Linked DNA regions of Homo sapiens: region 1 is linked to region 2. Evidence: fine-mapped expression QTL. A gene starts in region 2. The other region holds a variant in brackets. All regions are shown on one strand. Distances are from middle to middle.

Region 1 (4,406 bases), 22 kb after region 2:
ATAATAGATGTCATGCAGCCAATCCAAACGGCAGATACTACTGGGGTGGACAGTACACCTGGGACATGGCAAAGCATGGCACAGATGATGGTGTAGTATGGATGAATTGGAAGGGGTCATGGTACTCAATGAGGAAGATGAGTATGAAGATCAGGCCCTTCTTCCCACAGCAATAGTCCCCAATACGTAGATTTTTGCTCTTCTGTATGTGACAACATTTTTGTACATTATGTTATTGGAATTTTCTTTCATACATTATATTCCTCTAAAACTCTCAAGCAGACGTGAGTGTGACTTTTTGAAAAAAGTATAGGATAAATTACATTAAAATAGCACATGATTTTCTTTTGTTTTCTTCATTTCTCTTGCTCACCAAGAAGTAACAAAAGTATAGTTTTGACAGAGTTGGTGTTCATAATTTCAGTTCTAGTTGATTGCGAGAATTTTCAAATAAGGAAGAGGGGTCTTTTATCCTTGTCGTAGGAAAACCATGACGGAAAGGAAAAACTGATGTTTAAAAGTCCACTTTTAAAACTATATTTATTTATGTAGGATCTGTCAAAGAAAACTTCCAAAAAGATTTATTAATTAAACCAGACTCTGTTGCAATAAGTTAATGTTTTCTTGTTTTGTAATCCACACATTCAATGAGTTAGGCTTTGCACTTGTAAGGAAGGAGAAGCGTTCACAACCTCAAATAGCTAATAAACCGGTCTTGAATATTTGAAGATTTAAAATCTGACTCTAGGACGGGCACGGTGGCTCACGACTATAATCCCAACACTTTGGGAGGCTGAGGCGGGCGGTCACAAGGTCAGGAGTTCAAGACCAGCCTGACCAATATGGTGAAACCCCATCTCTACTAAAAATACAAAAATTAGCCAGGCGTGGTGGCAGGTGCCTGTAGTCCCAGCTACCTGTGAGGTGGAGATTGCATTGAGCCAAGATCTCAACACTGCACTCCAGCCTGGGCAACAGCGTGAGACTCCACCTCAAAAAAAAAAAAAAAAGAATCTGACTATATACCATGGAAAAGCCACCACTCTGCCACTTAAATAAACATCAGGATCAGAGATTCCAAGAGGACAATCTGCATCAAGTCTTCACCAAGTGTTTTTTAAGCGAAATAATGAAATAGGGAGCAGAATATGCCTGTTGCCCATAGAAACGAGGTCTATTCTTGTCCTCAATTAGGCTTTTTTTTCTTCATAGTTACACCAGAACTAAAGTAAAAGTGGTTTTTCTGTTCTTTCTACTTCTCCCCATGAAATGGGCATATCATCTCAACACTTCACTCCAAGTCGCCACGGGCAACCTTATGACCCTAGGTCCTCCACCCCTAATGTATCATCATTGCCACCCATTTTTATGGTACTTATTGTTCTTAAGCTTATCCTCTTAATCTTTTCATGTAAGCAAAGCTCATTAATTTCTGTCTTGGAAATGCTACTACTCTCTTTAATTACTCACCAAATCCAACTTTAACTTTTGACCTGGTTTCTCTGCCACAAGTTCTGTCCCACTGGAGCCCATACTCACCTACCGCTTTGCCATCACATTTAACAGAAAACTCTTATCAACTTACTTCCTGCTTAACATTAGCTCCTTCCTATCTATATCCAAATTTCTTAAATTCAAATTTTTTAGCTGGAGTAAAAATGGTCCCAGTACCATTTCCTGTTCCCTTCACTATAACCTACATTTTTGTCACATTAAGTTTTTCCCCATTCCAGGACAGGTCAGGCCCTTTAAAAATTTCAACAGCTTTATTGAGATATAATTGATATAATTTAAAAAATCCTGCACATGTGTCATGCTGGAGCCCTATTGATTCCAACAGGGATGGCGCCTTGTCCAAGAAGAGACCCAGAGCCAGTGAATGGGACATAGGGTTTATTTAGGACTTAAATACAGATGTGGTCCAGTGGCAGTGGGCTGGACAGGACCGCTACTATTTGTAAAGAGTATGTAGTTTATATAACATTTCTACTTAGCACTCTCCACTTAGCAACCTCCATTTAACCCAAAATAAAAGGCCTTGGTTCCTTGCACATCCTGAGTTCCAACGGACAGGCAGGGAGTTCAAGTGTCCTTCACAGATAAGAAGTGAATCTCTCTGGGTTGGCCATTCCCGGATTCCTTAGCTTAGACTCTGAACACATATTCTTCTTAGACCATACAGTCATTCTCAGGGTATGCTTGAGTTAATGCTGTCGGATGCATCTGTCATACAAAGTGTTTAACATATACGATTTCATGATTTTGGAAATATGCATACACCCATGATATCACTGGCACAGTCAAGATATTAAATATATCCATCACCTCCAAAAGTTTCCTTGTGTTCATTTATTTTAGTTTTTCATGGTAAGAACATTTAATATGAAATATTATCAACAAATTTTTAAGTGCACAATACTGTATTATTAATTTTAGGCATTATGTTGTACAGTAGATCTCTAGAACATATTCATCTACTAAAAATGAAATTTTATCTCCATTTCCCCCTACCTCCCATCCCCTGGCAACTACCATTCTATTTTCCACTTTGACTGTTTCAGATACCTCATATAAGTGAAAT[C/T]ACACAGTATCCTTTCGCACTGTTGTGGGGATGTAAAACGGTGCAGCTACCATGGGAAGAAATGTGGAGGCCCCTAAAAAATTTTTTAAAAAATTCTGATTATCATATGATCCAGCAATCTCACTTTTAGGCATATATCCAAAAGAACTGATATCAGGATCTGGAAGCAATATTTGTGCATCTGTGGTCATTGCAACATTATTCACAATGTTCAGGTCCTTTTATATGATGCCCTCATTGCAGCAATGTCTTCCTCCCAACACCATCTGACAAACTGCTATTTGTTTTTAAACCTCACTTTAACTGTCACCGCCCAGAGAAGACTTTCTAAAACCTTTGGGCAAATTTTATTACTTTTTGACAATGAATGCCTGAGGCTTATCCAGCTTTGATTCCAGAAACATCAGCCTGTCAGAATGGCTAATTTTCATGCATTTGTGAATGCTGGATGGCTAAATCCAGTGATTTTCAAAGTCTCGAACATCCTCTTTTTAAATGTAGAACCCATTTTCCAATAAAGCCACAAACAGAAACTCAACATGCAAAGTTCTTGAATATGGAACTTTTGGGGCAATACTGAGAGTCGCAAAAGTTCACTGAATGAAAAATGCGGGTTGGGAAGACTGCAGTCATCAGACCTTTGCTCACTCCTTACGTGTTCACAGAGGATCAAATGAATCCCTAGAGCTTGAAGTAATGCCATAGAAGAAAAACCACTAAAGTAGATAATCTGATGGTCAATTCTTAGTTAATGTACAAATAGAAAAAACACAGAGACCACTCCCAGGTAATATGTAAGTCTATCTAGAAAGAAATGCACTTTCTTGGCTGGGCACAGTGGCTCCCATCTGCAAACCCAGCACTTTGCTGGGATGAGGTGGGAAGATTGCTTCAGACCAGGAGTTAGAGGCCAGCTTGGCAACATAGTGAGACCCTGGCTCTACTATAAAACTTGTAAAAACAAACGAAAATACAGTAACGAAAAAAGAAATGCACTTTCTTAAGGTGTCATTTGGTAAGAAATGTTATGTGTCTGATTTTGCCCATGCACAATTTTGAATATAATAAAAAAGGTAGCTTCCCCTATTTAGAATATATAAAACAGTAACAACAAGATTGTATAACTCATGATTTTAAGATGATAATAGAAAGATTAGTTGAAAGTTTTTAATCCCACACTGTGGTATGAGAACTATTTTATTTATATATATATATACATATATATATATACACATATATAATTATATATATGTATATATAATTATACAATTAGGACTGAAAGTCTGCAACAAACTATAATGGATGTATGCACTTGGGACATAAGCTTCTAGTTCCTCTTTATTTATGAACCAAGAGAAACAGCTAACTCAGGGATTGTTTTTAAACTGACTACAGATTCCCACCATGGGGCAAAAATATGGGTGACATGACACATCACCAGCTGCAGTAGCTCAGCTCACATTTCTGTTTAAGCATTACACACATAATATCCTGTATGCTGATCATTTAAACTTACTGACGCTTGTAATCCCAGCACTTTGGGAGGCCGAGGGGGGTGAATCATGAGGTCAGGAAATTGAGACCATCCTGGACAACATGGTGAAATCGAAACAGTGTCTCTACTAAAAATACAAAAATTAGCTGGGTGTGGTGGTGTGCACCTGTAATCCCAGCTACTCGGGAGGCTGAGGCAGGAGAATCACTTGAACCCGGGAGGCAGAGGTTACAGTGAGCTGAGATCACGCCACTGCACTCCAGCCTGGGCATAAGACTGAGACTCCAAGTCAAAAAAAAAAATGCAGATTTCTTGGTACTAACCTAGGTT
Region 2 (4,406 bases):
TCTCTTAATTACTGGGTATTTGTAAAATGCAATTAATTAATGGAACTTTTACTGTAAAAGGCCAAAAAAAAAAGTTAAATCAGCTTAAATTATGCCAAAACACCACTCATTATTGAATAATTAGCCCATGACTAGCTTATCTTTAAAGGACTCCCTCTCCCTGCTCTCTTCCCCTAGTATTAGAATGTTAAGTATTTTAGCAATTGAAAAAAAAAAACTACACCAACCTCTCTTCATCTAAAGGCACAGGTTTTCCATTATCAGCTACAAACATGTCATGGGTCCTCTTCAACGACCTGAACACAAGGGTGTGTACAGAATGTTTCTGTACCTCCTAAAAAAAAAGAATGTAATTACACACCTATCTACAAATTACACAAATCATAACCTAAAGTCAGATTGATTATACACTTCACGTGTTTAAATATGTAAAAAGCTTTATACCACTCACCATAGCTACTTGTTGCAAGCTACAGGAGTCAAGTTCAGAGAAGAGGAGGAAGCTCCTCTTTGGCTAGAACCTCAGGTTTAGCAACTGAGTGATGCCGGAGTTTAACTTACTCAATAAATATTTACTGAGCTCCTACTGTGTGTCTGGCAGGTATTGTGCTAGAATCTCACAATAGAATGATAAAAAGGTGGTCATGGTCCCTGTGCTCAAGAGGAAACAGACAAATAAAAAGTAAAATAATTCCACATTTTGATAAGTGCTATGAAGGCAACAAGCAAGGCGCTGAGTCAGGGAATGAAGGACTAAGTATAATTGTGAAAGATTTCACTAAGGTGATATTTAAGCAGAAAGGGAGTTAGCCTTGCACAAAACAGAGGTAAGAACGAACCAGGCTGATGGAAATGTCATGTAAAAAAAAGTTCAGTTAACTGAAATAATACAAGGAGCGCAGTACAGCTGTGTATGGAGGATGAGATGGTGCTTTGTAGCTGCAAGGGTAGACAAGGTCCAGATTAGGTAAGGTCTTTTAGACTATTACAACAGCCTATATTTTGTTCTAGCAACATAGGGTCAGTAAAGGGTTTTAAACAAGAAAGGTATGAACAACTTACGTTTTAAACAGAACAACTTATAGAACAAAATGGAAGCAAGGAAACCAACCAACGGGGAGCTAATGCACCAGTCCAGGTGAAAGATGATGTTGGTCTCAATTAAGGTGGACTGCAGCGGATATGGAGAAGAGTGAATGGAATCAATAAACATGTGGGGTAAGATGGACAAGACCAGCTAACAGCGTTGGCTGTTCATGCCAGGGAAAGATGTAAAGAACGGCAAGTTTTTCTGGGGGTAGAGGTGAAATAAGAGACGACCTGAACGCAAGATAGAGAAGACTACCAATCTTTTAGGGCACAGACTCACTGACACTGCCCCGAGGGCGGCAAGTACCAGTGGTCGATCACCAACAGAGGCCCCGCCTCCGAGGACACTTTCCAGCTCCCAAGAGTCAAACGAGGACTGGACGAATTATCTCAGGCTTCGCGCCCAGGCTGAACCTCCGACTCGGGTTCTCATCCGGCTTCTACCCCTTCCCCGAAAACCCGAAGAAGAGACCACTCGGCCTTGGCCAAATAGCTCCCCTCGTAGCCTCTTTTCTCTCTGGACTCCAAGTACTCTCAATCCCCCACGCGCACTGCCAAAAAAAACAGTCCAGAGACAAACGACTCTTGAGAGCCCCAGTGTCACTTTACCTCGACCATGATGCTACCGTGTATCCCACCTCCGGCAGGGAAGAAACTCTAATCACTAACGCAGTACCCGCCGCCACAGCTGTGCAGCACCTTCCGGAATTGGGCGCCCAGGCGGCGGATGTGATGCAAGCTCTGCGCACGCGCGCTAGTCTCCCTCGGCCATCTAGGATCAGGAGGCGGGTCTCCCTCCTCGGGACCGCCTCTAGGGCGGAGTCTCGAGGCTGAAAGCCGGAGACTCCTGGAAGGGCCTGGGTGGAGGGTTTCACTCGTCCCTCTGAAGAAATCTTAGAATTATGTTTTCTGCCTTAGTTGGGGTCCTGGTTGTTCGTGCTGTATTCCCCGGAAGCTTAACGCTTTTTATTCAGAGAACCTAAGCGTCTGGAGAGCAAACTCCCGTGGGCTCTATCTAAGGCATTTCCACTACCTTGATCTCTTTGGAGGTCGCCTGCGTGCTTTGTGTCTCCTGGTTCTAATCCTGGCGAGAAGCACTTGGACACTTGTAGGCTTAACACCTGAAAACAATTTCGCTTAAACAGTCCAGTAAACACTTGTTAAGTGAACGTTGAGGAATAGCTGTTTTAATTTGGAAAATTTTGACATGTAGTTATAACAAAACCCCATATTTATTTTCTGCTAATAGATTTTTTTTTTTAATTTCTCAAAACTGCATAGCTCTTGTCCATTTCCTAGTTGCCTGCTGATTATTGTGGCTTCAACAATGCCAGGGTACAGCTTTTCAAAGCTGGTAGAAGACACAATTGGAGACTTTAGCCATTTTTATTTATACATATCCTTGTGCCAAGTATTGGTATTTTTGCTTTCTACCCTGGTAAAATCTGTGGTTTGTGATCAACCCTACCCAATTATTTTTCTATGTAAAAAAAAAAATGGATGGACTTAGGCATTTACAAACTTAAATAGACAAACATTTTACTGGCCCTGTTTCAGTTTCACTAATCCTGTCCTGAGAGCATACTGCTTACACTTTGAGAGGGGGAAAAAATCTAGCAAAAGAATAGCAATATAAATCAACCTTACTTGGAAATTCATTAAAAACATTAAGGTCATGGGTTTTTGTTTGAGACAGAGTTTCGCTCTTGTCGCCCAGGCTGGAGTGCCATGGCGCGATCTTGGCTCACTGCAACCTCAGCATCCCAGGTTCAAGCTATTCTCCTGCCTCAGCCTCTGGAGTAGCTGGGATTACAGGCGCCCGCCACCATGCCCGGCTAATTTTTGTATTTTTAGTAGAGACAGCGTTTCACCATGTTGGCCAGGCTGGTCTTGAACTCCTGACCTCAGGTGATCCGCCCGCCTCGGCCTCCCAAAGTGCTAGGATTACAGGCATGAGCCACTGAGCCCTGCCTTAAGGTCATGTTTTTACTTGAAGATACAGCATCTCTGAATTTAACTGTGAGTTTGGCCTAAGAATTGCTTTTCTGTAAAGGTGGCAGGTGATGGTATTTCCTTGCAAGAAAATACCATAATTGTAAAATATATACTTGATGAACTAAATAATATACTCACCTATTAATAATAACTATAGAAAATAACATGATTTGAAATGACAATAAAACCATAGAAACCTAAGCAAGACTAATATATATGGCAATATATTAATTGTCTAGTTGGATCTATTAACTTTTTACATATTTAATCATCCTGGAGACATTAATTTAATTTCTCAATAACAACATGGTAATGATTGAGGTAAATTGCCTCGAATTTGCTCCTTTTAAAACACTGTCGTGAATTTATAGAATGATGTCATCCCCTTGAAAGTTTACAATATTTTAGATAAATATAGAACTCAAGTGACCCTATTATTTAGTTCAGGGATTCATGAATTATGTATATTGTAGGAAAATTTTGTATTTATATGGGAATATGTTTTATTTTCTGGAGAAAGGATCCACAAGTTTAATTGGATTCCTGAAAGGCTCCGTCATACACACATGGCCTGGCTGACACCCGAAGCTGCCTTATTTGAACAGCAGGTGTCACCACTGCTCTTTGTACGGGCCCTCAGGGCTGTCCTTAAAGCAGACACGGCAAGTAACTTATTAATATAAATTATTAGTATTATGTCTGTGTAAAACCAAGAATACAAGTTTTAAGGAAAGCCCTCCTTCTTTAGGCAAGATTTTTTAAACTCACCAATACAGAAACTCTTTTTATTCTCCTTCAAATATTGTCCTTTGCTCTTGAACAGTGATAGGTCATATGAGTATAGATTTGAGTGCCATTTTCATCAGCTTTTTATGATATTTTTATAGGAAGTGTTTTCTGATTCTTATAAAATAATAAATATTACTATTTATTTTTCTGTTTCAACTTAGAGGGTTAAATATACAAGCTTTAAAAAACACTATATGCAATGTTCTTTAGAGTTGTGTGGCTCAGTATGTCCATCCCTTAAATTTCATATTTGAAATTGTTCGTTAATTCAAAAGGAAGTAATCATGGGAGTTATCACTGTTTATTTGAATTTCTGAGGTCAAAACCTGTGAAAAATGATACTTGGACATTTCTTCCAAAACTTTGGTCTTTAATTGTTTAGCACAATGCTATGAATTTGCCTAAATACTAAGGTAGTGTTAGCAGATACTTTCTTGTAGCATAGTTGAAACAAGCTTCTGGGACTATAAGGAACAGTGAAGGGGCTGTTCTTCCTGTTAATGCCTGGAAAGACTTTGGGAATAATTAGATTG

Which allele goes with the higher level. Alleles are on the strand shown, and positions count from the first base shown. SD is a standard deviation of normalised expression in the study named.
In carriers of allele C in region 1, the expression in skeletal muscle of the gene that starts at base 1,799 in region 2 tends to be lower than with T alone (moderate effect, 0.51 SD a copy in GTEx).

What was found. PIP is the estimated chance that this variant, and not a neighbour inherited with it, causes the effect. A credible set is the group of variants that fine-mapping cannot tell apart.
Region 1: its variant is the best candidate, but not a certain one, in a credible set for the expression of PLRG1 in skeletal muscle (GTEx, PIP 0.69).

The regions. Positions count from the first base shown.
Region 1 is chr4:154,570,475-154,574,880 of GRCh38, forward strand. FGB (fibrinogen beta chain) reads left to right here. Exons shown (of 8, transcript NM_005141.5): 8 at 1-2,333. The coding sequence ends at 176. Among named protein-coding and RNA genes, the nearest start is that of FGB, 9.7 kb to the left of the region's middle. The variant C/T (reference allele first, on the strand shown) is at 2,582.
Region 2 is chr4:154,548,602-154,553,007 of GRCh38, forward strand. It overlaps PLRG1 (pleiotropic regulator 1), which reads right to left and starts at 1,799. Exons shown (of 15, transcript NM_002669.4): 1 at 1,699-1,799; 2 at 228-334. The coding sequence starts at 1,707. RefSeq lists enhancers at 1,903-1,952, 1,973-2,132, 3,516-3,810.